Linked DNA regions of Homo sapiens: all the other regions are linked to region 1. Evidence: fine-mapped expression QTL. A gene starts in region 1. Each other region holds a variant in brackets. All regions are shown on one strand. Distances are from middle to middle.

Region 1 (9,599 bases):
ATTTTTTTTTTTGTATTTTTAGTAGAGATGGGGTTTCACCATATTGGCCAGGCTGATCTCAAACTCATCTGCCCACCTCAGCCTCCCAAAGTGCTGGGATTACAGGTGTGAGCCACCACACCTGGCCCAGTGTCATATTTTAAATTAATCTAAACTTACAGGAAATTGAGATTCTATGAAGTCTGTTTACTGGGAATGGCAAGAAAGAGGGGAGATGGGAGTCTCTCTAAACCTATTCTGGTTCCAGAGGCTGCTCAATTCACACAAAAAAGAGAAAGAATGAAACATGGGGGGAAGAAATGGAAGAACTAGAGGTGGAGACTTTCAGCCCCAGAATTTTACCATGTGGAAGTTTTTGTTTGTTTTTGTTTTTTTGAGACAGTGTCTAGCTCTGTCGCCCAGACTGGAGTGCAGTGGCGTGACCTTGGCTCACTGCAACCTCCACCTCCCAGATTCAAGTGATTCTCCTGCCTCAGCCTCCGGAGTAGCTAGGATTACAGGCGCCCGCCACCACGCCCGGCTAATTTTTGTATTTTTCATAGAGGCGGGCCATGTTGGCCAGGATGCTCTGGAACTCCTGACCTCATGATCCGCCCGCCTTGGTCTCCCAAAGTGCTGGGATTACAAGCATAAGCCACCACGCCCAGACTCACCATGTGAATGTATTACACTGACAAAATAAACGTGACAAAATAAAACTGCACATTGATAAGATAAAGGTGTAATTATTGGAATAGTGGTAGTGTTCTAGTACTTTCTTAAGCAAAAACATGGGTAAATGATTTCATAAGTGCAAATTTTTTACAAATACATGTGTTTTAGCTTTTATAAAAATTGCAGAATATAACACATCCAAAAAAGAGTCTAAAATATAAATATACAGTATCAAAAAAATTCACCACTACCCAGGCCATGAAAAAGCAGAACGCCTTCCAGAGTCCTTCCTTTCTCCCCAGGCTCTGAACTCCTAAAATTACAATACTCATTTCCTTTCATAATATATATATATATACACACACATATATATACATACATGTGTGTATATTTACATATATACACACACACATATATATATTTTTTGAGACAGGTTCTTGCTCTGTCTCCCAGGCTGGAGGGCAGTGGTGCAATCACAGCTCACAGCAGCCTCAACTTCCCAGGCTCAAGGGATCCCTGGCTAATTTTTTTTTAAATTATTTTTTGTAGAGACTGGGTATTACAATGTTGCCAGAGCTGGTCTCAAACTCCTGGGCTCAAGCGATCCCCCTGCCTTGGCCTCCAAAAGTTCTGTGGGATTACAGGTGTGGGTCATCGTGCCCAGCCTATATTTTTATTTATAACGTTTGTATGCATCTGGGAAATTTCATAGAAATCTTTTCAAAAGGAAGTTTAGTGAGGTAGAAAGAGTGCAGATTTAGGAGTCAGAAAAACCAATTTTGAAAGGCCAGGCCTGCTATTTACTAAGTGTGTGACTTTGGGCAAGTCAGTCCCCCTCCTCCAGGCCTTTTTCTCACCTGTACATGCAGATGAGACCATCCACGGGTTCCAGGACTGTCGCAAACATTCAAATCATGAACATTTATATACCAAGTTTATTGAGACCTCCTGAGACTTAAACCCTGTAGAAAACAGATGAATCAAACCCAGGCCCCATTCTCGGGAAGCTCACAGTGTGAAAATAGGTAACTACAAAAACACAGCCAATAAGTGCTTTGAAACAAGGAAGAACATAAAAAAGATGTAGTGTTCGAAAACCTGGAATCAAAAACTAACCGCGGAGAAAGGTAGGAGGATGTTCTAGACTCCCAGAGAAGAGCTGGGGAACATCCAGAAAGGCTCTTGCTGCCGACACAGCCACATCCCCTAGGTCTCTGGAGTTCACTGCAGGCTGGCCCATTGCAGGGAGGTGTAGACCACCTTACCATCAGGCTGCGGAGAACAGAGGAGCAGGGTCTTTCTGACGCTGGTTCCAAGGCGCCCAGCAGCAACCAGGTCTTGGAGTGGGATGGTGTCCTCAGGGGCCCAGCACTGAGCGATATAATGGGCGTGGAAGCGGAGGGGGTCACCTGGGGGAAGGAGAGAGGCACTGAAGCAGTGACCAATGGCAGACGGCTGGACGCCACGGGAACGACCACTGGGAGGAGATCTGAGATCATTTCAGCCATCACTATAGATACTCTAAAACAGATGCTCTTGGACACAACTATTCCACTTCTAGGCTTTTTTTTTTTTTTTGAGACAAAGTCTCGCTCTTGTCCCCCAGGCTGGAGTGCAATGGCACGATCTTGGCTCACTACAACCTCTGCCCCCTGGGTTCACATGATTCTCCTGCTTCAGCCTCCCGAGTAGCTGGAAATACAGGCACCCACCACCACGCCCAGTTAGTTTTAGTATTTTTAGTAGAGATGGGGTTTCACCATGTTGGCCAGACTGGTATCAAACTCCTGACCTCAGGTGATCCACCTGTCTTGGCCTCCCAAAGTGTTGGGATTACAGGCGTGAGCCATTGCGCCCAGCCTGATGTCTAACTACTTCTAAGTGAATCTTCTGGATCACAGTAATCATTTAATAAAAGTCGTTAAACTGCTTGCCCAATGAGTTCGGGAGCTCCCAAATGTTTCCTGTCTGTCTATGAATTTCAGAGGCTAAGAGAAAGTGAGACAAAAAAGAAAAATGCAGCTGGGCCTATAATTCCAGCACTTTGGGGGGCCGAGGTGGAAGGATTGCTTGAGCCCAGGAATAGGGACCAGCCTAAGCAACAAGAGACCCCACCTCTATTAAGACAAAAAAAAAAAAAAAGAAAAACGCAGAATACATTGGGATCGTATGGAAAGGCACAGCAACCAGAGGCCCCAACCCATACTCACCAGGATAGACCAGGAAGTCACCTCCGAACTTGCCAGCCGCACTGAGGAAGAAGCCTCGCTCCCACAGGTCTCTGTAGATACTGTAGCGCAGCTCGTGGGCAGGGCGGCCGGCGTGGGGCCAGTCTTTAGACTGGACACGCCAGTCCAGGGGCCTGGCCTTGACCGGTCGAGGCCTGGCAGTGGCCAGCTGGACAAGGAGAGCAGATCTGGGCAAGGGGGCTACCCCATTTGAGGGTCCTGCTTGGGAAGACGAGGGGCCTGGTGGGGAGTACAGAGAAGAGTTTGGTAAATTCAAGGGGTAAAGTCTTCTCACCCTCAGGGAGACCCAGGCACTGGATTCCCAGCTAAAATTCCTAAAAGATCTCTCCTCTCCTTCCCGTGGTCCCTGGACTCCACCTCCCATGCTCACCAGCTTCCTCCTGCTCTCCCGAAGCCTGGCCATCACTGGTCTCATCCTCTTTGGCAGCCTGGCTCGAGCCGGCCTCCTGGCTTGAGCTGGCCCCTGAAGCCTGTTCTAGTTTCTGCTTCTTAGCAGCCTGGCCCTCCGTAATCTTCTCCAGGAGCTCCTGACGACGGGTCTCCCGGGCCTCAGCTGCCAAGGCGCTCTGCTCCTGGAAGCTCTCCTCTTGCTGGCGCTTGAAGGATGTCAGGGCCTGAGAAGCACACTTCGCTGGAACCTCCAAGCTTATGGTCCCTTCAGAAGCCAGGAAACTTGACTCCCAGGTCCCGCTCCCACCGAACCCGAGTTCGAGCCCCGCCCCCTTACCAGGCTGTGGTGCCGAGAGTCTGGACGCGGGGCGCTGACCAGAGTCACGGCGCCGATCTCGGCCAAGAGCCGCGCCTCTTCGGGCATCAGCAGCAGCGGGAGGCCCAGGCGCGAGTTCTGGCGGGGCCCGCGGGGCAGGGCGCCTACCGTGCGGCCCCCCACACCCAGGCGCTCCCGGAGGGCCTGCACCGCCTCGGCTCCCCACACCAGGGAGCGGCCGTTCGCCACCTCCACCACCAGCATCCTCCTGCGGGAGCCGGGAGGCAAAGCAGTTACCGAAACAGCTGCGCGCCGCGGACCGCTGCAGCGCACCCAAAGCCTCCGGGGTCTCGGCGAAGCCCCGCCCCTAGGCCTCAGGGGGCGGGGCCTCGCTCAGCCGCCGTTCACCACCTGCTGGGCCCGAGCGCCAGGCCCCGCCCCCGGGCGATCCCACCAGGCCTCGCGGCCGCCGGAGACGAGACGCCGGAGACAAGCCCCCGACCCTCTCCCCTCGCCAAGCCCCCAGGGTCCCGCTCTACCCTTGTGACCCTGCGGTCGGCACCCGCTCTGTGCCCGCACTGCCGTACCTACCATTGCGCCTTGGAGCGTGAAAAACAAACCTCCGCAAGCGCGGCGACACGCCCCCTTACAAAGGTCCATTTTGGCACCACCCTCTTGCAAAGTGGGCGTCCCCCTTCGGGTGTTCCCGTCAGCGGTCAGAAGCTCTGGAGGCTAAGGCACCGCCGAGGCCACACCCTCTTCCGGACGCTCGAGCCTTCGCTCCTCCTCTTTCCGAACGACTGTGATTCGGCTTTCGGACCTCCTCGCTCTCAGACTCCCACAGTACAAAACCCTGCCCCCTCCCGAGCACAGGAAGTTCGGCGTTCGGGCGTCCTCGGCTCCACCGAATCCGCAGCCCCGCCCCCTTCTCGAACGCCAGCAATTTGACGTTCGGGTGTTCTCGGCTCGGCCGAATCCGTAGCCCCGCCTCCTCCCGGACGCAATAGGTTCGGCGTTCGGGCGTCATCGGCTCCCGGCAGCCTCGCGGCCTGTGGCCCCGCCCCCTCCGAGCGCCAGCGCACCCCAGTTGGGGAGTTCCCGCCCTACGACCGAACCCCACAGCCGAAAGCCCCGCCCCCTGGACACCCGCCGTCCACTCTCCGCTCGGGCGGGCTCACCCCAATTGGGAGCGCTCAGTCCGCCTCCTTGCCTCCCTTCAGAATGTCCCACTGTCCACCGATAGAACCAGCGAGTCACCTCATAAACAGTAATTCGCAGTCGAGGTGGAGCCACCCACTGCGCACCGCGCCACGCGCTCCTTGCTCCACCCCCTCATGCCGACACCCTCGTCAACTTCGTCATCCCGCCCCATCAGCGCCGCGGGAAGTCAGGTCCCGCCCCTCGCAGGACCGAAGCCCCGCCCTCCTCCCGCGGGGGCCACCTTGGCTCCGCCCCACTGAGCGCACCTCCCTCTGCCGCTTCCTCTCCTCTACTTGGGAACTTGAGGATCGTCATCCTGGCCCGGTCCCGTAGGCGCACGCCGGCCCTCGGGGTTCCGCCCCTTTGAGGGCAAGTCGCTTTCGCCCCGCCCCCTTGTAAATACTCATGGGTGTCTGGCGAACCTGTTGACTCCGCCTATCATCCTAGCGTCACTTGTACCCAACTATCTACGAAGTAAACCGAAGCTTGTGGCCCCACCCACATCCGGCCGAGTCTGTGGCCCCGCCCACATCGGAACAGTGACCCTAAGGACTCGACTACCTCCGAAGAAAGCCGAAACATGTGGCTCCGCCCACAGTGGCCTCAGCTCTCCGTTCTCGACTATTGCCGAAGTGAGCCGAAGTTTGTGGCCCCGCTTCCGGAGAACTCAAGCTCCCGATTGTGCCCGAAGGAACCCGAAGGGAGACCCCGCCTCATTCCTCACGCCGAGCTCCAGACCCCGCCTCCTTTCCAGAGCCCGTCTGTTCCCCTTCGGGTCCAAAGCTTTTGGCTCCTCCTTGTTCCGAGCCCGAAGGCCCGCCCCTTCACGTACTCGGAGCTCGGATCCCAGTGTGGACCTGGACTCGAATCCCGTTGCCGACTCGCGCTCTCGGCTTCTGCTCCGGGGCTTCTTCCCTGCCCGCCCGGGGCCCTGACCGTGGCTTCTTCCCCGGCCTGATCTGCGCAGCCCGGCGGGCGCCCAGAAGGAGCAGGCGGCGCGGGGGCGCGCTGGGCGGGGGAGGCGTGGCCGGAGCTGCGGCGGCAAGCGGGCTGGGACTGCTCGGCCGCCTCCTGCCCGGCGAGCAGCTCAGGTGGGCCAGGGTGGCGGCGCCCAGTGGCGAGGCGAGGTTACACGGCGGCAGGGTCTCTGCGGGCTGGCGGGTGCGGGGCGGCCCCGGAGGCGCGTTGGAACTCGGGGCTGGCGCAACCGCCTGTGGCTCTGCCGGGGATGCGCTGGGGTGCGCGGGACGGGTTGGGGCTGGGCCTGGGCCTGGGCCTGGGGAGGGGAGGGTGTTCGATCCCCGGGTTCTCAGTAGGAGAGGGGTGTGGAGCTCCGAAGGAGGTGCAGGTTGGAGACCCGGGCTCCTCTGGGTGGTCTCGAAGGAGAAGGGCTGGGGGGTCCGGATATCTGGTTTCACAAGGGCCGGGGGATGGGGGATCCAAAGAGGGGGTCTGGGTTCCTGGATCCTCGCTGGAAGAGGGGGCTCGGAGGTCTAGATTCCTGGGCTGTCGAAGAGGAAGGGTCCGGGAGGGGTGCCGTTTCTGGGTTTTTAAAAGAGGGGCGTCTTCAAATCTGGGTCCCCAGTATGGGTGCGGGGAGTAGCTTTGATTTCTGCGTTCGCAAAGGAGGGGCTTGGGTGCTGGGAGATCCCCACACTTTCCTGGGTTCTCCAAGGACAGGAGAGCTGGAGGCCTGTGCGCTCAAAGGAGGGGCTGGGGGTGGATTCCTGTCTCCTCCAAGGAGGAAGGGGCTGGAGTCTGGGTTGCTAGGTTCTCAAAGGAGAGGAGCTGAGGCTCATACTCCATCATCCTCAAAAACTGGGGTCTAGAAGGCTGGGTTCCTGGATCCTCGAAGAGGGAGGAGGCAGGGGGCCTGGATTCCTGGGTTCTCACTGTGAATCTCTGCCCCTCCCCCAGACCATGTCGCCTGAAGAATGGACGTATCTAGTGGTTCTTCTTATCTCCATCCCCATCGGCTTCCTCTTTAAGAAAGCCGGTGAGTCAGGCTCCCTCCCCAGTGGAAAATAAAGGGGGGGGACCCTCTGGAAGGTTCCAGGCTTATGCTGTCCCTTCCCCCTGCAGGTCCTGGGCTGAAGAGATGGGGAGCAGCCGCTGTGGGCCTGGGGCTCACCCTGTTCACCTGTGGCCCCCACACTTTGCATTCTCTGGTCACCATCCTCGGGACCTGGGCCCTCATTCAGGCCCAGCCCTGGTGAGAATTTGGTGGAGGGAGGAGAGGGAGAGGAGGGGAGAGGGGGAAGCAACCTGTTTCCTCTTTGAGTCTTTTTCAGCTTCTGCCTCATGTCTAGCTGTCTCTTGTTGATCAGCTCATTTCTCTGTTTCATGTTTGTTTGTTTGTCTTTCTTTCTTTCTTTCTTTCTTTCTTTCTTTCTTTCTTTCTTTCTTTCTTTCTGAGATGGAGTTTCGCTCCTGTTGCCCAGGCTGCAGTTCAGTGGCACGATCTTGGCTCACTGCAACCTCCACCTCCCGGGTTCAAGCGATTCTCTTGCCTCAGCCTCCCAAGTAGCTGGGATTACAGGCATGCTCCACCATGCCTGGCTAATCTTGAATTTTTAATAGAGCTGGGGTTTCTCCATGTTGGTCAGGCTGATCTCGAACTCCTGACCTTGTGATCTGCCCACCTCAGCCTTCCAAAGTGCTGGGATTACAGGCGTGAGCCACCGCATCCGGCCTTCATCTGCTTTTCTTTCTCCCCTGCCTTCTGCGTCTGGTCCCTGTGTGTTTGTCCCAGTCCGCTACATCCATGTCATGGAGAGAGGTGGACAGTGTGTCTGCTGGCCTGGCCACCGTTCATATTCATTCATATCCACCTCTCTCTTCTTGAGCCCTGGACCTCGGAAATAAAGAAAAAGTGGAGGATTGCAGGGTCTTCACCCGAAGCTTCTCTTAACCTCATTCTCTGTTGGTGTGTGTTTCTATGTGGCTGAGCCTCTTCTCCCACTGTTTCAATCATACTCATTCGGTCCCTACATCCACCCTCCTGTCCTCTCTGCCCTTCTGTGTTTCTGTCTCTAAACGAATGGGGAGAGCTGGGGGAGGATTGGTGGCTGGACTCGTGGAGTGAGTGGCCAAGGCCGAGACTTCTGTGCCCAACACAGTGCGCCTCCTGCTTTTGCCCAGCTCCTGCCACGCCCTGGCTCTGGCCTGGACTTTCTCCTATCTCCTGTTCTTCCGAGCCCTCAGCCTCCTGGGCCTGCCCACTCCCACGCCCTTCACCAATGCCGTCCAGCTGCTGCTGACGCTGAAGGTCAGACTCGGGGCTTGCCACTCCCCTCCAGCCTCCCTGTGGGCCCCTTCACCTCCCACTTTACCTCCCCCTTCAGTGGCTCCCCGGGATTTTACCTCCAACACACCCTGGGGGTGGGACGTCACCTCACTTGCTGCCCTGGGCACAGCATTCCCCATTCACATGCCCTTGGGCAGGTCTTCACCTCCCAGCTCCTCCTGGGGTGAGGAAATAACCCACATAGGGTAACAGTAGGTGCCATTGGGTGCTTGCGGTGTGCCAGAGGCCCAGCTGGGTGGTTTACCAACATGCTGTCCTTGAATCTCTGTAGCCAGCTATTTTGCAAAGGAGAAAAACCAGCTCTGGGGAGAAGGTACTTGGTGAAGGGAACAAAACTAGGGCATCCAGGTCTGGCTCCTAATCACCTGGGAAGAGGGGTAAAAACAGAATCCTAGGGCCCACCCCAGACCCACAGAGTCATGGTTTCCTACTGGCGGCTTATCCGTGAACACAGCAGTCATGCTAGGTAGGGAGTGGCCTTCCCAGCATTCAGTGTGCCCTGTGGGAGCTCAGTGGTGGCAGGAGTAGGTTGGATGAGAGAGGGGTTCGTGGAGGAGCATTTCAGGCCGCAGGATGTGTGGAGGGGAGCAGGCTGGGTTCCACAGGCTACACCAGCCACATCCACTTTCTGGGACGAGCAAAAGGGAACAGGCAGCAGGGCTGACACCGTGCTAGGCCTGGCTGGAGACCGTGAGGACATTGGACTTCTTCCCGTGGAGGATTGAGATCTGCTGGAAGAGGGGATTTTTGGTTTGCTGCCAGAAGAGGCAATGTGACCAGTTTTAAATGTTTAAAAATACTCGTTCTGGCTGGGCACAGTAGCTCACGCCTGTAATGCCAGCACTTTGGGAGGCTGAGGCAGGCGGATCACCTGAGGTCGGGAGTTCAAGACCAGCCTGACCAAAATGGAGAAACCCTGTCTCTACTAAAAATACAAAAGATTAGCTGGGCGTGGTGGCACATACCTGTAATCCCAGCTACTCGGGAGGCTGAGGCAGGAGAATTGCTTGAACCCAGGAGGCGGAGGTTGTGGTGAGCTGAGATCGTACCATTGCACTCCAGCCTGGGCAACAAGAGCAAAACTCCATCTCAAAAATAAATAAACAAATAGAAATACTCATTCTAGGCCAGCTGCGGGTGGCTCACGCCTGTAATCCCAGCACTTTGGGAGGCTGACGCGGGTAGATCACCTGAGGTTAGGAGTTTGAGACCATCCTGGCCAACATGGTAAAACTCCGTCTCTACTAAAAATACAAAAATGAGCCGGGTGTGGTGGCTCACACCTGTAATCCCAGCTACTCAGGAGGCTGAGGCAGGATAATTGCTTGAACCTGGAAGGTGGAGGTTGCAGTGAGCCAAGATCCCGCCATTGCACTCCAGCCTGGGCCTTCCCGGGCAAGATTCCATCTCAAAAAAAAAAGAAAAGAAAAGAAAGAAAACTCGTTCTGGATGCTGAAGGAGAATTGAAGTGGAACAGGGCAAG
Region 2 (9,599 bases), 36 kb after region 1:
AAGCCGGCAGGGCGGCGCTCCGGGGCCCAGCGCGCAGGCGCCGCGGTTGGGGGCCGGAAGCGGAGGCGTTGCGCAGGCTCAATGTGCCCCGTGTGAAATTCGGGACCAGGCGCCGATCCCACTTTCGAGGACGTTGCCCCGCAAACCTTGTGCCCACTTCCACGAAACCTTCCTTGATCTCGCCCTCGTCTTAGTTTTTCCCCCACTGATGTATTTCACATGGCTGGAACAGTGTCTAGCACAAAAGAGAAGCTTAACATTTAATGAATCCGTGAACCCTTGGACAGTTCAAGGAAATTCGGATCACTTTTTAGTTTGCCTGCACAGCCTATTTATTGAGCATCTACTGTATGCTAACTACATGCCGTGCACCTGACTTGCGGAATCCCCAATAAGCACTGTTCGTTCTTAGAGGGGCACTGTCATCTCTGTTGCACGAAGTGAGATGGCTTCAGTGAGGGGAAGGCACATTTTAAGGAGAGGCGGACAGCCAGGCTCCACGCCATCGGGCGAGCCCTTTCGTGCACCGCCCCCTAGACACATACACACAAACACGGGCTTTCCGTATGGCTCTTTAAATCTGTTTGGTGTACACCCAACTTTCATTTCCTTAGCTAGTCTGATCCTCCGCCGTGGGTGGGAGGTAGTCTAGGTTTTTAGAATCTCAGTAGGCTGCTGAGCGCTGTTTGAAATCCGCGTCCTGAAGGCAGGGGACAGGGCTTCAGCAGACTTGGGGTAGTCACTTGGAGCCATGGCTAGAATTCAGATCGTCTGGCCTAATGCATACCTTTATGGCTGTTTTAATTGTCTCACTTGAGGTTAGGAACCCCTTTGGTTTAGGCCAGGGACCTCCTCCCATACATCCTTGATGACCCGTGGTTTACTATTTGAAAGGGAGTTTACAAAACCCAGGCGTTGCCTCATCTGCCTACCCTCACCCCCAGCTAGGACAGGTGCCTCTTTTAGGCGCCTAGTGCTCCCTTTCTCATAACCCCAGCACCCTGGACTGCCATTTTCTGTGGTGGGCACCAGACTCACAGTTCTTGAATTACCTCTAGGTTCTGAATGTCCTGCCTATAACTTTCTCCCCAGGCCCGTACAGAATTCCTACGGAAGAAAGCCAGACATCAGAACTCACTGCCTGAGCTTGAAGCAGCAGAGGCGGGAGCCCCAGGTTCTGGCCCTGTGGACCTGTTTCGGGAGCTGCTGGAGGAAGGGAAAGGAGTGATCAGAGGCAATAAAGAGTACAAGGAAGAAAAGCGACAGGAGAAAGTAAGCTGGCCTCACCCACTTCATCAGAGGGGCCATGAATCGAGTTGGAGGGAGGGGGCACTTTAGCCATTGGTTGTGACCAAGGTCAAACAAGAGTGAACACACAGAATTTAGGACCATACCAAGGCATGACACTCAAAAAGCGTTGGCTATTGCCGTCTGGGCGCCCACAGGGGTTGGAGGTAGATGCTAGAGGTCCCCAGCTGCTGGGCAAACCGCTCAGTTCTCCAAACTGGAGGAGTCTCAAACCTGATGGGCTTTTAAAAATTTAAATCAGCCGGCTGTGGCTCACGCCTGTAATCCCACCACCTTGGGAGGCTGAGGCGGGTGGATCACCTGAGGTCAGGAGTTCAAGACCAGCCTGGTCAACATGGTATCTCTAAAAATACAAAAAAAATTAGCCGGGCATGGTGGTGCGCGCCTGTAATCCCAGGGAGGCTGAAGCAGGAGAATCGCTTGACCCAGGAGGTGGAAGCTGCAGTAAGCCGAGATTGCGCCACTGCACTCCAGCCTGGGTGACAGAGCGAGACCCCATCTCAAAACAATCAAACAAAAAGTGAATCAATCGCCTCTTGCTTTTTGGCTAAGATCAAGTGTAAAAGGTACATCAGTGGCTGTGCATGGTGGCTCACGCCTGTAATCCCAGCACTTTGGGAGGCCAACGTGGGTGGATCACCTGAGGTCAGAAGTTCAAGACCAGCCTGGCCAAACATGGCAAAACCCCGTCTCTACTAAAAATACAAAAATTAGCTGGGCATGGTGGTGTGTGCCTGTAATCCCAGCTACTCGGGGGGCTGAGGTAGGAGGATTGCTTGAACCTGGGAAGCAGAGGTTGCAGTGAGCCGAGATCGTGCCACTGCACTCGAGTCTGGGCAACAGAGCGAGACTCCATCTCAAAAAAAAGAGGTACATCAGCTCTTGTCATTTATCTGCTGTCTCTGGACTTGCTGACCCCACCCATCGCTCCTCTGCTTTGCTTGATCCCTTCAGGCTTCTCTTCAAGTCTCTCTGCAAAGATGCCTGCCTCTGAACACTCAAGTGGCTCCACTTGTCCCCTCCTTCCCCTGCTGTTACTGTACCTGCTACTGTCCCCCCAGGGGGAGCTTTGCCTCTGTTTGTCTTCCATCCCCAGCACCTGGTCCAACTGGTTCATAACAAGCCTTAGATACCTGTTCGCTTAGATACCTGTGTCAGGGAGACACACCTGACACCTTGAAAGATTATATCACATCTCTTGTATTTCCTGGCCCCCTCAGGAGAGGCAAGAGAAAGCTCTGGGCATCCTGACATACCTGGGCCAGAGTGCAGCGGAGGCACAGACTCAACCCCCTTGGTACCAGCTACCCCCAGGGCGAGGGGGCCCCCCGCCCGGCCCAGCCCCAGATGAGAAGATCAAGAGCCGTCTGGACCCTCTGCGGGAGATGCAGAAGCATCTGGGGAAGAAGAGACAGCACGGCGGTGATGAAGGCAGTCGCAGCAGAAAGGAAAAGGAGGGGTCTGAGAAGCAGCGACCCAAGGAGTAAGAAGACCCCACCTCGGCAGACCAGGGCCCAGACCTTCAGGGCTTGGCAGCAGCCCAGCATGGGCACTGCAGCGTCTCTGGTCAGGACAGCCAGGGACTCCGTGAAGGGCTGGCTAGGTGGAGAAGTGGTTCTCAGCATGTGGTCCAGGGAGCCCTAGGGGTCCTGACACCCTTTCCCGGGGTGCTGTGGTGTCAAGCCTATTTTCCTGACACTGGTGGACTTTTCCACTCGTGTTCTCAGGCATGTAGTGCAGGTTTCCAGAGGCTGTGTGATGGGGAGACACCCTCACTCTGATGGCCAATGGCAGATGCTTGTGTCCAAACTTTCTTAGTTTTCACTAATGATTTGCAGCATATTAAGAGAACCCATTTAAACAAAAGCTCTTGGGGTCCTTGGTTTTTAAGAGTATAAAGGGGTCCTGAGACCAAAGAGTTTGAGAGCTGCTGGGTTAGAGAGTAAAAGCAGGCTTCTGTCTCCAGGATGCTGCACCCCTGGTCTAGAGGGGGTACACTGCCTGTAGTCTTCTTTCCTCTAGAAAGGGAAACTGAGGGCCAGGGGGCTGCTAAGTGTGCTTTCTTGACCTGGAGAAGCATCAGATTTTAAAGACTGGGGAGGACCAAAGCCCACAGAAGGGAAGGCCAGAGACGTGCCCATGGCGTCCCAGCACCAAGTGGCTGCTTCCAGCAGGCCTAAGGAGCTGAGGCTGGGGTGTGCTGGATGCAGCGGGGCTTCCAGGCGGCAGCTCCCTCTATGGGAGAGGTTGGGGGAATGGCCTCCTAGGGGCTACCAGCTTTCTGACCTCACTCCTCTCCCCACAGGCCTCCATCCCTGGACCAGCTTCGAGCTGAACGTCTGCGGAGGGAAGCAGCTGAGAGGTCTCGGGCAGAGGCCCTGCTGGCCCGGGTCCAAGGCCGGGCACTACAGGAGGGTCAGCCGGAAGAAGACGAGACGGATGACCGGCGGCGGCGGTACAACTCCCAATTCAACCCCCAGCTGGCCCGGCGCCCCCGCCAGCAGGACCCTCACCTTACTCACTGACTCCTGAGGGGGTACAGGAGAGGCCGCTGCTGCCAGCCGTCATATAAAACTATTTATTCATAAATATTTTCCAAAATGAAAATAGGTTTACCAAAAAATGTCCCTCACTGGGGAGGGGAGGAGGGGGCAGCCCTCGCCCCCGGGCCCCCAGGGTGGGGCTGAGAGGAAAACCTCCCGGCCCCCTCCCTGCTTCCTGGGAGAGGGGGATGCCCCGTGGCTTGGGGCCTCCCTCCAGTCTTCCAGGGCAGGGCCCTCACCTGGGCAGGGGGATCAGCATGCGGGGGAAGGGGGTGGGTAGAGGGAGGGGCCGGTGTCACTGGAGGTCCCGGTCCTCCAGGTAGCGGTACTCAAAGGTGAAGCCTTCCTTCTTCCGCTGGCCCCACTTCTCGTAGTCAAAGTAGATGTAGGTGCCCTGGCCGGGGGAGAAGGCGGTCAGTGAGTGGACGAGGAGGTGGTCTGGGATCTGGGCCGGACCAACAGACAAAGGGGACAATTCTTAGGGCTGTGGATGTGTCAGGCACCGGGCCAGCTGCCCTGCACGCACACACTCTCATCCATCCTCACAAGGTTCTTCTTGGGTAGGAAATGTTATCATGCCACTTCAGCGAGGAGGAAACGGAGGGGGCCGCAGAGGTTCCACCGAAGCCAGCTGCCAGAACGGGGCCCCAGCCCCAGGTGTGAGTGCACAGCCTTCGTTTCCTCGAGGGCTGTGGCTTTTGAGCACCTCTCACGTGAGTACAGGATGCACAGCCTAGCATTTAATCTTCACAAAGACCTCGAGGCAGTGGGTACTGTCACCCTTGTTCTAGAGAATGGAACAGTCTCAGAGTCTAAATCCAAGCACTCTGCAGGGACATTTTATTGGTGACGAAGTGGTGTGGGAATTTCTGAATGACTGGATGCCCTGAAATGTACTAACTTGGAGGATGGTTTTGGGCCAAACCAGGAAAGGACAGGAAGTCTGTGGTTAACATCTGAGGACACAATGGGAGAGGACCTAGGTTCTAAATGAATGTCTTAAGTGCTTCAAAGATGGCAACCTGGGAGAACCAGGAGAGGGGACTGAGTTCTCTGAGGACAAGGACCTTGTACTACTTCATCCCCATGAAGGGGCTCGGCATCAGGGAAGTATTTGGTGGAAAAAAACATCACTGTAGAACACACCAACTGAAAGTAATTTGAAAAAAAAAATCCATGACACTGACTATGTAGCAGTCACCATTAAGTACTTACATGTTATTAACTCATTTAATCTTCATAACAACTGCATTAGGTAGGTGGTCTTCCCCCCATTTTTACAGATAAGTTAATTGAGACACAGAGGTTCGAGTGACTTGCCTAGAGTCGCCCAGCTGGACTGGGCTGAAACCCAGGTAGGTTGGTTCCAGAGTGTTTGCAAGCAGCAGGAATTTCCCAGTATTAGAACTTGAGAAGCCCATTCAAAAAAAATAGTTTC[C/G]GCACTGAGCCCCTGCCCTGCTGAGTGCTGGGACCTGGAGGTGAAGTGGGGGCCATCAAGGTCCCTCGGCAGCAGAGCCCACAGCCTGGTGCAGGGACACATACTGGGAAAATCCCACACCCCAGGCGAGTGTGCCCAGCACTGCAAAGGGGAGGCACTGGGCTGGGTGGCTCCAGGAAGGTTTCTTTGAGGAAGGGACATTTGGGCTGAGACCTACAGGAGGCCTAGGAGCTGGCCAAGTGGAGGATGAGAGGGCGGTGTTCCAGGCTGAGCAGACAGCCAGAGGGAGGAGTACTTGGTCAGGCTGAGGGACTGCGCCAGCTGAAAGGTGGAGGCAAGGGAGCAGAGGCCAGCAGGGGCTGCCTGGAGCCTGGGGACTCTACCCCAACCCTAGCAGCGGGAAGAGAGGGGGCGGGGCCCTCACCTGCTCAAACTCGTCAGTGATGGTCTTGGGCTCCTCGTGCCTCTGGAACCACATCATGTACTTGGTGTGGAATCGCCATGACTGCTTCTTTAGGGCCTTGGCTGCCAGATACTGTGCCTTAGTGCCCTGGGGGAGGAACAGTGGAGAGGGGGATCAGGGGGCCCCCAAACTGGGTGGGGAGCCAGGGGAATGGGGCAGGACATCAGGGCTGAACCCCGGCCCCCGCCACAGACCACAGTTGGGCTGGACAATCCTCTTGGAGATGGGGCTGGGGGCACAGAACATACCAATGCTGATCAGGAGAAGGAAAATGAGACAGGAGGTGAAAATTGCTTTCAGAGAAGCTTTGAGAAGGAAGAAAAACTAATGTGTGATGAGAGCTGAGAGAGGAGGCAATTTAGAAAATTTCCCAAGTGGGGATGAGGGTGGAGGTCACTCATGACTCACTGGGGTTGGGAGGGGGCTGGACAGCTCCCCAGTGGTCTCCAGGGAGGCCTGAGAATGTGCCAATGAGCAGAGTGGGGTCGGCCTAGACTGGGGCTGCTGGAGCAGGGCTGGGGAGGGGCCGCGGGTGAGCCAGTGGGCAACTGGAAGCGGGGCTGAGGTGTGCCTCAGTGGACCAGCCTCGCTGTCAACCCAAGCAGTTCTAACATCTCTGGGCTGGAAGGCGGGGACGGGGACAGGTGGATTTGGGGCAGGGGCCCAGGAGTGGGAATAGGGAGGGGGTGCGGTCCCAGTGGCCGCAGTGGGGCACCCACCTCACCCCTCCAGCCCGAGGGGGGACGGCGGCGGTGGCGGCGAAGCCGGGGGGCCCGAGGCTGCCCCGGGGGCCCTGCTGTACCTCCAGATAGTAGAAGATGAAGAAGAGTGTCTCGGTCGACAGGCGCTGGTAGAATTCCACAGTGTCCGAGTGTGGGGGTGGCATCTGGTGGTGGTAGGGGGGCGTCGGACAGGGGTTCCGGGGGAGGTACTGCCTGTGAGAGCAACAGGAAGGTCAGTGCCAGCTGCCTACTAGTCCTGTCGTGATCAAAAGGGTGCTCAGACATGCATCCCTGCGGGGGGAGGTGGTACAGAAAGACCCAGGGCGGTGCTGACCTTCAGTGGAGAGCCCAAGTCAGGGGCCTGGTGCTCTACCCACAGCCTCACAGGTTCAGCCACTGCCTCCTCCGTAAGACTCAAGTCCCAGACCATCCCCCTTCCCTGTGGCCCCTCACCGAATACGCTCAGAGTCAGAGGGGTGAGGCATGTGGTGCCAGGCGGCCTCTTCCATGGCCTGCTGATAGAGCTGCTCCTTGGTGAGGGGCACAGGGCCCAGTGGACAGACACCCAGCGACAGCGGTATGTTCACCTCTGACAGCTGCAGGGGCGGCTGGGCTGAGGCCGGAGGTGCTGATGTACTGCTCAGGATGATGTCTGTGGGGAGGGTGGGGGTCCGGCCCCCTCAGTGGTGAGGATGGGTCAGGGGCAGCCCCTCCTCTTTGGCCCGCTGCTTCCCCACCATCCTGGGTCCCTCACCTCGCTCGGTCAGGTGCAGCGTTGGCACAGGGTCCTCAATGCCAGAGCTGATGGCTGCCCGTTCCGCCATGGACTTCAAGGAGCTCAGAGGCTCAGGGGCCTGGGGAGGAAACAAGAGGCCTGGCCTGAGCACTTGGGCTGCAGGAGCAAGTGCAGCCTGACACAGGCCCCAGATGCTCTCACCTGCCCTGTTTGGGGGCCGTGGAGGGCCAACGACCCACTCCCCACAATCTACCCATGACAGGTAAAAGCATCAAACTGTAGGGAAACAATCGGAGACCACGACGCATTCATCAGCAGAGGAACGTCTCGTGAGTGGGACTCTGCAGCATGGAATACTACGCCGAGATTTTCAAAATACAAGTTCGTGACATACTACAGAAGTAAACGCCAACCTGCAGAATATGTACAGTGCGCTACCATTTTTGTCAAAGGATGTGCCAATAGTACACGCTCCTTCACTAGGGACACCTACACGCTGGGAGAGCTCCCGCCTGTCTTGAAGGAGGCAGGAGGTCTACATGCTCAGCTGTCTGCCTGTGACTGGCATGGGGTGACTGGAATCGGGGTGGGCCCAGCCCGGCTAGGCTTCAGTCTCCTTGCTGGAAACAGGTAGGTTGGGTCTCCAGCCCCGCAGCCACAGCCTCGTTTCCTATTACAAAGGTTACAGCAGGCTTCTGTTCCCCAAAGTCAGGGCTGGTTCCTCCCATCTCCTCCAGCCACGTGCAGCTGTCCCAAACCCCAGCCCTGTGCTGGACTCTCCACAACGAGTCAGTCGCCAAGGCTTATCCATCCTGTCTCGCTATATCGCCCAGGCAGGTCTCAAACTCCTGGGCTCAAGCTATCCTCCCGCCTCTGCCTCCCTAAGAGCTGGGATTACAGGTGTGAGCCACCACGCCCAGCTATCCGTCCTGCTTCTAAACCCCACTGGATGGCTCCCTTCCCTGTCGTGCCACCATGTCCCACACAGCCCAGGCCTGTCCTCTCCTGCCCAGACCACCCTCCCTCTATCCTGTCCTCACCAGCCCCAGGGGACCTTTCCAATGAAGTCATGTTGTTCCTTCTCTACTCCAAACCTTGCCATGGTTCCCGACCACCCACCCCAGCGATTCATTTTTGTTGTTGGTGGTGTTAAAAGATATGGACCCCTTCTGAAAATCTCAAAGCTGCTGTTTCCCTTTTTCCAGAAAAATGCACGCACTATAAATATCCTGTCCACCTACTTCTAAAATTTGGGCCGGGCACGGTGGCTCACACCTGTAATCCCAGCACTTTGGGAGGTCAAGGTGGGTGGATCACCTGAGGTTCGGAGTTCAAGACCTGCCTGACCAACATGGCAAAACCCCATCTCTATTAAAAATATAAAAATTAGCCTGGCGTGGTGGCAGGCGCCTGTAATCCCAGCTACTCAGTAGGCTGCGGCAGGAGAATCGCTTGAACCCAGGAGGCGGATGTTGCATTCAGCTGAGATTGCACCACTGCACTCCAGCCTGGGTGACAGAGCAAGACTCTGTCTCAAAAAAGAAAAAAAAAAAAAATTAATGCTTCTGTTGGGCCAGAAACTGTTCCAAGAGCTTTATGAGGATGATTTAGTCTTCCAAATAACCCTACATAGTAGGTATAATCGTGACTATTGCCGTTTCCCAGATGAAGGCACAGAAAGGACAATGCCAAGACTTGGACCTGGACAGCCTGGGCGCGCACACTGCCTCCTGGACAGCCTGGGCGCGCACACTGCCTCCTGGACAGCCTGGGCATACACACTGGTCCCCCCATGGAAGCTGCGCTACAGTATACTGGCTCACAAGCCAAGCCCCAGCTCCTGACCCTCGATGATCAGGACCCCACCGTCCTATCCTGCTACACCCACTATCTCAGCCCTGCAGCTGGTGGCACTGTCTCCTGCAGAGTGGACACCTCTCTCCTCTCTGCTGCATCCTGCCCAGCTTCCTAAGCACACAGGCAGATGCATGCTCCTCCTAAAGCACCTCCTGAAGCCCTTCCTGCAGCTGTTAGCCCCCCTGCCTGGTCCAGGTCTCAGCTTAAACATCACCCCCTCTCAGACCTTCCTGGGCCTGTCTCCCAGGTCAGGTCAGATGCCCCTCGGTGGGCCCACCGCAACCTTCCCTGCAGCTGCCCCAGCAGGGAAGCTTCCTAAAGGGTGGAACCAGGCTGCATTCACCCAACCAGTCTTTCTACTTGTGCAGAAAGTACACCAGTCTATGCCTTGTGAGGACAAACGGGGACAGAAACTGAGGGCCTGCGGGGGGGATGAAGATGGAGACCCAGAGAGAGCAAGCAACAAGTGCAACCAAGAGAAAGGAAAAGAGACCCAGAGAAACAGAGCTTTGGAGGGAACAAGAGAGGAGGT
Region 3 (9,599 bases), 120 kb after region 1:
TTTTTTTTTTTTTTTTTTAGTAGAGACAAGGTTTCACCATGTTGACCAGGCTGGTCTCGATCTCCTGACTTTGTGATCTGCCTGTCTCGGCCTCCCAAAGTGCTGGGATTACAGGCGTGAGCCACCGTGTCCAGCCCATTCTAATTTTTATCTCTATGAATTTGCTTATTCTAGGATGTATGAGTGGAATCATAACACTTGTTCTTTTTTGCCTGACTTAGTTTACTCAGCATAATATCCTCGAGCTACATCTATATTGTAGGATATGTCAGATTTCCTTTCCTTTTTATGGCTAAAATCCCACTGTAGGCCGAGCACAGTGTCTCACACCTGTAATCCCAGCACTTTGAGAGTCTGAGGCAGGCAGATCGCTTGAGCCCAGGAGTTCGAGACTAGCCTGGGCAACATGGTGAAACCCTGTCTCTACAAAAAATACAAAAATGAGGCTGGGCATGGTGGCTCACGCCTGTAATCCCAGCACTTTTTTTGCAATGACCTGACGTAAGGAGTTCGAGAACAGCCTGGCCAATAGGGTGAAACCCCATTTCTACTAAAAATATAAAAATTAGCCATGCGTGGTGGCGGGCGCCTGTAATCCCAGCTACTTGGGAGGCTGAGGCAAGAGAATCGCTTGAACCCAGGAGTCAGAGGTTGCAGTGAGCCGAGATCATGCCATTGCACTCCAGTCTGGGCAACAAGAGCGAAACTCCATCTCAAAATAAATAAATAAATATTAAAAACAACAACAACAACAAAAATGAGCTGGGCATGGTGGTGTGCAGCTGTAGTCCCAGCTACTCGGGAGGCAGAGGTGGGAGGATCACCTGAGCCCAGGGAGTTGATGCTGGAATGAACTAGGATCACATCATTGCACTCCAGCCTGGGCAGCAGAGCGAGACCCTGCCTCAAAAAAAAAAAAAAAAAAAAAAAAAGAAAGAAAGAAAAGAAAAAGAAAAAAGCATTTTGGAGGCTAAGATGGGCGGATCACCTGAGGTGGGGAGTTCAAGACCAGCCTGACCAACATGGTGAAACCCTGTCTCTACTAAAAAATACAAAATTAGCTGGGCATGGTGGTGCATGCCTGTAATCCCAGCTACTTGGGAGGCTGAGGCAGGAGAATCACTTGAACCCACAAGGCGGAGGTTGCAGTGAGCTGTAATCCCAGCTACTTGGGAGGCTGAGGCAGGAGAATCACTTGAACCTGCAAGGCGGAGGTTGCAGTGAGCTGTAATCCCAGCTACTTGGGAGGCTGAGGCAGGAGAATCACTTGAACCCGCGAGGCGGAGGTTGCAGTGAGCCGAGATCGCGCCATTGCACTCCAGCCTGGGCAACAAGAATGAAACTATGTCTCAAAAAAAAAAAAAAAAAAAACGAAGAAAAAGAAGAAAAATCCCATTGAATATATAGAGCACACTGTGTTTATCCATTCTTCCATGGATGGACACTTACGTTGTTTGAACATTTTGGGTGTTCACAATTTCCTTTTGCAAAACTTGAAGTGTCAGTTTATGGATTGGCTCATGGATGTAATAGTAGCACAAACGCCTGGTAACTTCTCCTTTTTCCTGCTGAGACCTAAAACTGTTCACACAGGGGAAAAAGAGGAAATCTCTCAGAGACACAGGCCTAACTAACTTTCTTTGAGTTAGATCAATCTCATTATTATGATAATGTTCATAAACAGGCTTGATATTATGTTTTTTCTTTTCTTTCTCTTTTTTTTTTCTTTCCTGAAACTGAGTCTCGCGCTGTGGCCAGGCTGGAGTGCAGTGGTGCGATCTCAGCTCATTGCAAACTCTGCCTCCTGGGTTCAAGCGATTCTCTGCCTCAGCCTCCTGAGTAGCTGGGATCACAGGCGCCCATCACCACACCTGGCTAATTTTTGTATTTTTAGTAGAGACGGGGTTTCACCATGTTGGCCAGGCTGGTCTTCAACTCCTGACCTCGTGATCCACCTGCCTCGGCCTCCCAAAGTGCTGGGATTACAGGCGGGAGCCACCGCGCCCGGCATGGTCAAGAGTTCTTAACCAGCCCAGCCCTGTCTCTATCAAAAAAAATTAAAAAGGAGGAAGAGCAAATGCAGCCATGTGTGAAACAGGGAGGAACGTATGCTTTCCCCTTTCTGGAATGACCATTTGGATGTTTTGAGGCTTGTTACAGGACACCAAACAATAAATTTTGTCCTGTTTGGAGTCATGAAGGGATTAAAAGAGATCATGAGCCTGGGCAACATAGGGAGACTCTGTCTCTGGGAAAGACTAAAAAATTAGCCGGGTGTGGTGGTGCACACCTGTGATCCCAGCTACTCGGGAGGCTGAGGTGGGAGGATCACTTGAGCCTGGGAGGCTACAGTGAGCCATGATGGAGCCACTGCACTCCAACCTGGGCAACAGAGAGAGACCCTGTCTCAAAACACAATAATAAAATGAAAAATTAAAAAATAAAAAGAAGCTGGGCACAAAGCTCATGCCTGTAATCCCGGCACTTTGGGAGGCCGAGGTGGGTGGATCACCTGAGGTCAGGAGTTCGAGACCAGCCTGGCCAATATGGTGAAACCCTGTCTCTACTAATAATACAAAACTCAGCCGGGCGTCCTGGCGCATGCCTGTGATCCCAGCTATTTGGGAGGCTGAGGCAGGAGAATCACTTGAACCCGGGAGGCGGAGGTTGCAGTGAGCCGAGATTGCGTCACTCTACTCCAGCCTGGGCGACAGAGCGCAACTCTGTCTCTGGAATGAATGAAAGAAAGAAAGAATGAATGAAAGAAAGAAAGAAAGAAAGAAAAAGAAAGAAAGAGCGAGACTCTGTCTCTGGAATGAATGAAAGAAAGAATGAATGAAAGAAAGAAAAAAGAAAGAAAGAAAGGAAAGAAAAAGAAAGAAAGAAAGAAATGGTAAGAATGAGTGCTGTTTTCAAACAGAAGATGAGAATGGAAGGATTTGTGGGAAAGGCCTGGAGCAGGGGGAGGTGACAGCCACACAGGATGGTCAAGGAGAATCTCTGGGAAAGGATGGAGGAGCTGGAAGTCGAGCAGAAGCCACAGTCCAGTGTGGGGAGAATGAGAACTCCTGAGCGTATGACCTCTAAGGGTCTGTTCTCAGCAGGAGACTCTGGGACGATCTCCAGGGGTCAGGGCAGGGGGTGACGTGGCTCCAGGTAGGGGCTTCTGGCTCACGGAGGATTGTCTTGCAGGACTGTGCGTGGGCCAAGGAGACACAAGGGGAGATGGTGAGTGTTTCTTCAACTACACCCTCCTTGGCCTGTCATCCCAAATCCCCTGCTGTTCTCTTCCCCTTCCCCCTCTTTTTCTCTTTTTTTTTTGACGGAGTCTCACTCTTTCGCCAGGCTGGAGTGCGGTGGTGCAATCTCGGCTTACAGCAACCTCCGCCTCCTGGGCTCAAGTGATTCTCCTGTCTCAGCCTCCCAAGTAGCTGGGACTACGGGTGCTTGCCACCACGCCCAGCTAATTTTTGTATTTTTAGTAGAGACGGAGTTTCACCATGTTGGCCAGGATGGTCTCGATCTCATGACCTCGTGATCTGCCTGCCTTGGCCTCCCAAGGTGCTGGGATTACAGGCGTGAGCCACCGCACCCAGCCCGCTTCCCTTCTTAAAATGGGATTCCTGATTGGGCTCAGGGGTTCACGCCTGTAATCCCAGCACTTTGGGAGGCCAAGGTGGGTGGATCACCTGAGGTCAGGAGTTCGAGACCAGCCTGGCCAACATGGTGAAACCTTGTCTCTACTAAAATACAAAATTAGCTGGGTGTGGTGGTGCGTGCCTGTAATCCCACCTACTTGGGAGGCTGAGGCAGGAGAATTGCTTTAACCCAGGAGACGGAGGTTGCAGTGAACTGAGATTGCACCACTGCACTCTAGCCTGGGCAACAGAGGGAGACTCCATCTCAAAATAATAATAATAATAATAAATTTTAAAAAGGGCTTCCTGAGAGCAGGGGAGGGCATCGGGTCCAGCATCAGGCTCTGCTTCCTTCCAGGGTCACTGCCCAAGCCGTCCCTCAGTGCCTGGCCCAGCTCGGTGGTCCCTGCCAACAGCAATGTGACGCTGCGATGTTGGACTCCTGCCAGAGGTGTGAGCTTTGTTCTCAGGAAGGGAGGAATTATTCTGGAGTCCCCGAAGCCCCTTGATTCTACAGAGGGCGCGGCCGAATTTCACCTCAATAATCTAAAAGTCAGAAATGCTGGAGAGTACACCTGTGAATACTACAGAAAAGCATCCCCCCACATCCTTTCACAGCACAGTGACGTCCTTCTACTGTTGGTGACAGGTACAGACAGGGTGCCTGCCAATGACATACGGGGGACAGGGGATGAGGGAGGAAGTGGAGGAACAGAGGGAGAAAAGGGGTCCCACCTTCAGAGTAGTTGGGGGTGGTGGGAGAGGGAGAGAGACAGGAACGAAATTGCATATGTTGGTTTTATACTTTGTCGCCCAGGCCAGAGTGCAGTGGTGCCATCTCGGCTCACTGCAACTTCCGCCTCCTGGGCTCAAGTGATTCTCCTGCTCCAGCCTCCTGAGCAGCTGGGATTACAGGTGCCTGCCACCATGCCCGGCTAATTTTTGTATTTTTAGTAGAGACAGGGTTTCGCCATGTTGGGCAGGCTGGTCTCGAACTCCTGACCTCAGGTGATCCACCCGCCTTGGCCTCCCAAAGTGCTGGGATTACAGGTGTGAGCCACCATGCCAGGCCTTACACAGGTCTTGTAGGAGGGAGAATCTCTGTCCTGGGGTCGGAGT[A/G]GGAAGTGGAGGAAGGTAGAAGAGATCAGGAATCTCTCATTTCCCACACTCCACGAGAGCCTCCGGCCAGGAGAACAGGGGTGAGTGGGGGATTCCAGACTTCTCCCCAGGACCTCAGAACCTGACTTCTCTTACAGGACATTTATCTAAACCTTTCCTCCGAACCTACCAAAGGGGTACAGTGACCGCAGGTGGAAGGGTGACTCTGCAGTGCCAGAAGCGAGACCAATTGTTTGTGCCTATCATGTTCGCTCTACTGAAGGCAGGGACGCCATCACCCATCCAGCTGCAGAGTCCAGCGGGGAAGGAGATAGACTTCTCTCTGGTGGACGTGACAGCCGGCGATGCTGGGAACTACAGCTGCATGTACTACCAGACAAAGTCTCCCTTCTGGGCCTCAGAACCCAGTGATCAGCTTGAGATATTGGTGACAGGTAAGGGCGTGTATGGTTTTGAGGAACTGTGTGTGTTGTTTTTAATCAGAGATTGTTTTGTTCTTCTGTGAATCTCATTTCTTCATTACTTACAATATCATCGCTCTTAACAAAATCTTCCCTTTCTGGCCTGGCGTGGTGGCTCATGCCTGTCATCCCAGCACTTTGGGAGGCCGAGGTGGATGGATCATCTGAGGTCAAGGATTTGAGACCAGCCTGGCCAACATAGTGAAACCCCGTCTCTACTAAAAATAAAAAATTAGCCAGGTATGATGGCATGCACCTGTAGACCCAGCTACTTGGGAGGCTGAGGCAGGAGAATTGCTTGAACATGGGAGGCGGAGGTTGCAGTGAGCCAAGATCTTGCCACTGCACTCCAGCCTGGGCAATAGAGTGAGACTCTGTCTCAAAAACAAAAAACAAAAAACAAAAACAAAAACAACAAAACAACAAAAAAACCTCCCTTTCACAATTTCCACTCCTTTGCCTTTTTTTTTTTTTTTTTTTTTTTTGAAATGGAGTCTCACTCTGTTGCCAGGATGGAGTGCAATGGCGCGATCTTCGCTCACTGCAACCTCCACCTTCCAGGTTCAAGTGATTCTCCTGCCTCAGCCTCCCAGGTAGCTAGGATTACAGGCCTGCACCACCCATCCGGCTAATTTTTCTATTTTTAGTAGCGATGAAGGTTTCACCGTGTTGACCAGGCTGGTCTTGAACTCCTGACCTCAGGTGATCTGCCTGCCTCGGCCTCCCAAAGTGCTGGGATTACAGGTGTGAGCCACCGTGCCCGGCCCTCCTTTGCCTTTTTGTTATACTACATCCTTGGAAAATTTCTAGGCTGTTTTTGAAAATTATGAATCTACCAGCACCAGATTCCTTCTACCAGTCTTTGCATCTCTTAGCGTTTTGGTTTTTTGTTTTGTTTTGTTTCATTTTGTTTTTGAGACAGAGTCTCGCTCTGTTGCCCAGGGTGGAGTGCAGTGGTGCGATCTCAGCTCACTGCAACCTCTGCCTCCCGAGTTTAAGCAATTCTCCTGCCTCAGCCACTTGAGTAGCTGGGATTACATGTGCCCGCCACCACGCCTGGCTAATTTTTGTATTTTTAGTAGAGATGGGGTTCTGACCATGTTGACCAGGCTGGTCTTGAACCCCTGGCCTCAGGTGATCCGCTCACCTCGGCCTCCCAAAGGGCTGGGATTGCAGGTGTGAACCACTGTGCATGGCGTGTTTTGTTTTTTCTTGGTGTTAGTGATTTCACTCTCAATAATTCTTTCTCAGTCATGTGTGGTGGCTCAGGCCTGTAATCCCAGCACTTTGGGAGGCTGAGGCTGGAGAATTGCTTGAGCCCAGGAGTTTGAGACCAGCCTGGGCAACATAGTGAGACCCAGTTTCAAATTTAAAAAAAAAATTATCTCATCCTCAGAACATGGTGTTTGCACAGCCTCCTGCTTCTATGCCGTGGATGCGAAGTCTACCCATGTCTTTTATTGACTGCTAGAATTCTTCTGAAAGTATCTTGTTTCCTGCCTTACTGGGTGCTAGCACTCTGCTTCCTCAGCTCTGTAAATTATTTTTCATCTGTTGTAACTGCTGTAATGAGTTACATTACAGCTCTTGCCGGGTGCCTGGATGAAGCCCATTCATCAAGACAGAGGAATTGCAAAAAAGAGTTTAATACACATTGAGCCAGGTAAGTGGGAGACCAGAGTTTTTTTGTTTGTTTGTTTGTTTGAGACGGAGTCTTGCTCTGTTGCCCAGGCTGGAGTGCAGTGGCGCGATCTCGGCTCAATGAAACCTCTGCCTCCCAGGTTCAAACGATTCTTCTGCCTCAGCCTCCCGAGTAGCTGGGACTATATGTGTGCCACCCTGCCTGGCTAATTTTTGTATTTTTAGTAGAGATGGGGTTTTACCATATTGGCCAGGCTGGTCTCGAACTCCTGACCTCGTGATCTGCCCGCTTGGGCCTCCCAAAGTGCTGGGATTACAGGCATGAGCCACTGCACCTGGCCAATCAGAGTTTTATTATTACTCAAATCAGCCTCCCTGAAAATCTGGAGGCTAGGGTTTTGTTTGTTTGTTTGTTTTCTTTGAGATGGAGTCTCACTCTGTCGCCCAAGCTGGAGTGTAGTGGCACAATCTGAGCTCACTGCAGCCTCCACCCCCCAACCCCAGGCCCAGGTCAAGTAATTCTCCTGCCTCAGCCTCCTGAGTAGCTGGGATTACAGGCACCCGCCACCACACCCGGCTAATTTTTTTGTATTTTTAGTAGACATGGGGTTTCGCCATGTTGCCCAGGCTGCTCTCGAACTCCTGGCCTCAAGCAATCCTCCCACTTTAGCCTCCCACAGTGCTGGGATTACAGGCGTGAGCTACTGTGCCCGGCCTCAACTCAAACTTTCTCAGGTGCACTGCTGCACAGCAGTGTGTGCTGCGAGGATGCTGATCCAGCCACGGAATTCGGGGCTCTGTAGAGCTCCTTCCGTCTCATGTGCTGCCCCAAGACTATTCCTTAACATAAGGATGCGGGAGGAGAAAAGGCAATGTGGGAAGGTGGAAATGGGATAAAGAGCAAATAAACGAAGGAAGAGAGCTAAGGTGGAGTGAATATCAAGGAAGGAAGATAAAGGAACTCCCATTACAACTCATTAGGATTGCATATCTTGGCCGGGCGCGGTGGCTCAGGCCTGTAATCCCAGCACCTTGGGAGGCCGAGGCAGGCGAATCACTTGAGGCCAGGAGTTCGAAACCAGTTTGGCCAACATGGCGAAAACCCATCTCTATTAAAAATACAAAAATTAGCCGGGTGTGGTGGTAGGTGCCTGTAATCCTAGCTATTCGGGAGGCTGAGGCAGGAGAATCGCTTGAACCCAGGAGGTGGAGGTTGCAGTGAACCGAGACTGCGTCGCTGCACTCCAGCCTGAGCAACAGAGTGAGACGTCGTCTCAAAAACAACAACAAAGATTCCATCTTTTGTTTTCAGGGATTAAAACTTTAAAGAGCTCAATTATGGCCAGGCATGGTGGTTTATGCCTATAATCCCAACACTTTGGGAGGCCAAGGCGGGTGGATCACCTGAGGTCAGGAGTTCGAGACCAGCCTGACCAACATGGAGAAACCCCGTCTCTACTAAAAATACAAAATTAGCCGGGTGTGGTGGCACATGCTCATAATCTCAGCTGCTTGGGAGGCTGAGACAGGAGAATCACTTGAACCCGGGAGGCAGAGGTTGTAGTGAGCTGAGATTGTGCCATTACACTCCAGTCTGGGCAACAAGAGCAAAACTTGATCTCAAGAAAAAAAAAAAGTTCAATTAAAACTTTAAAGTACAGTGGACTACTGGCTAGAAAACATTAAGTGGGTGGCCGGGCGCGGTGGCTCACACCTGTAATCCCAGCACTTTGGGAGGCTGAGGTGGGCGGGTCACCTGAGGTCGGGAGTTCAAGACCAGCCTGGCCAACATGGCGAAACCCCGTCTCTACTAAAAATATAAAATTAGCCGGGCATGGTGGCACATGCCTGTAATCCCAGCTACTTGGGAGGCTGAGGCAGGGAGGCTTGAACCTGGGAGGCAGAGGTTGTGGTGAGCTGAGATTACACCACTGCACTCCAGCCTGGTCAACAAGAGTAAAACTCCGTCTCAAAAAAAAAAACCAAAAAACCGAAAACATTAAGTGGGTGATGATAGTCAGATTTGGTGGGGCCATTTGAGAAGGAGGGATACCCTCTGAGGGTCAGTGCTGAGCCCCTTCTCTCTTTCAGTTCCCCCAGGTACCACATCGAGCAACTACTCCCTGGGTAACTTCGTACGACTGGGTCTGGCTGCCGTAATTGTGGTTATCATGGGAGCTTTCCTGGTGGAGGCCTGGTACAGCCGGAATGTGTCTCCAGGTGAATCAGAGGCCTTCAAACCAGAGTGACTCCATCTTGAACCGGGGCTGGGTAAACTGAGGCTGCAACCTGCTGGACTGCATTCCCAGGGGGTTGAGGCTTTCTAAGTCACAGGATGAGACAGGTCACAACATACAGGTCACAAAGACCCAAAGACACAAAGATGCAACAAAGAAGCCAGCCAAAACCTGCCAAATCCAAGATGGCAACAAAAGTGACTTCTGGTCGTCCTCACTGCACATTATTTGCTAATTATAATGCATTTGCATGCTAAAAGACACTCCCACCGCCACCAAGACAGCTTACAGATGCCATGGCAACTTCCAGAAGCTAAACGAGGGAGGGACTCTCAGTTCCAGGGAAATCCCCTCCCCTTTCCTGGAAAACTCATGAACAGTCCACCCCTTGTTTAGCATACGATCAAGAAATAACCACAAAAATAGCCGACTGACAGCCCTCTGGACTGCTCTGCCTATGGAGCAGCCATATTCCTTGACTTTCTTAATAAACTTGCCTTCAC

The links.
Region 2: its variant is fine-mapped to the expression of MBOAT7 in whole blood (TOPMed, PIP 0.96).
Region 3: its variant is fine-mapped to the expression of MBOAT7 in whole blood (TOPMed, PIP 0.98).

Annotation. Positions count from the first base shown.
Region 1 is chr19:54,185,639-54,195,237 of GRCh38, reverse strand. It overlaps MBOAT7 (membrane bound acylglycerophosphatidylinositol O-acyltransferase MBOAT7), which reads left to right and starts at 5,658. Exons shown (of 8, transcript NM_024298.5): 1 at 5,658-5,900; 2 at 6,727-6,805; 3 at 6,892-7,021; 4 at 7,951-8,077. The coding sequence starts at 6,730. It overlaps TSEN34 (tRNA splicing endonuclease subunit 34), which reads right to left and starts at 3,930. Exons shown (of 4, transcript NM_001077446.4): 1 at 3,631-3,930; 2 at 3,274-3,517; 3 at 2,865-3,122; 4 at 706-2,063. The coding sequence starts at 3,873. The coding sequence ends at 1,876. RefSeq lists enhancers at 2,478-2,994, 4,963-5,644, 5,645-6,330 and a silencer at 3,839-4,040.
Region 2 is chr19:54,149,955-54,159,553 of GRCh38, reverse strand. It overlaps CNOT3 (CCR4-NOT transcription complex subunit 3), which reads right to left. Exons shown (of 18, transcript NM_014516.4): 14 at 7,229-7,328; 15 at 6,928-7,126; 16 at 6,555-6,687; 17 at 5,714-5,839; 18 at 3,873-4,245. The coding sequence ends at 4,147. LENG1 (leukocyte receptor cluster member 1) reads left to right here. Exons shown (of 4, transcript NM_024316.3): 2 at 1,093-1,272; 3 at 2,529-2,791; 4 at 3,614-4,393. The coding sequence ends at 3,833. It overlaps LOC102724273 (a long non-coding RNA gene), which reads left to right and starts at 7,327. Exons shown (of 4, transcript XR_001754001.3): 1 at 7,327-7,840; 2 at 8,876-9,597. RefSeq lists an enhancer at 1-500. The variant C/G (reference allele first, on the strand shown) is at 5,290.
Region 3 is chr19:54,069,512-54,079,110 of GRCh38, reverse strand. It overlaps TARM1 (T cell-interacting, activating receptor on myeloid cells 1), which reads left to right. Exons shown (of 5, transcript NM_001135686.3): 2 at 3,193-3,228; 3 at 3,997-4,287; 4 at 4,895-5,191; 5 at 8,951-9,216. The coding sequence ends at 9,108. Among named protein-coding and RNA genes, the nearest start is that of TARM1, 7.1 kb to the left of the region's middle. The variant A/G (reference allele first, on the strand shown) is at 4,758.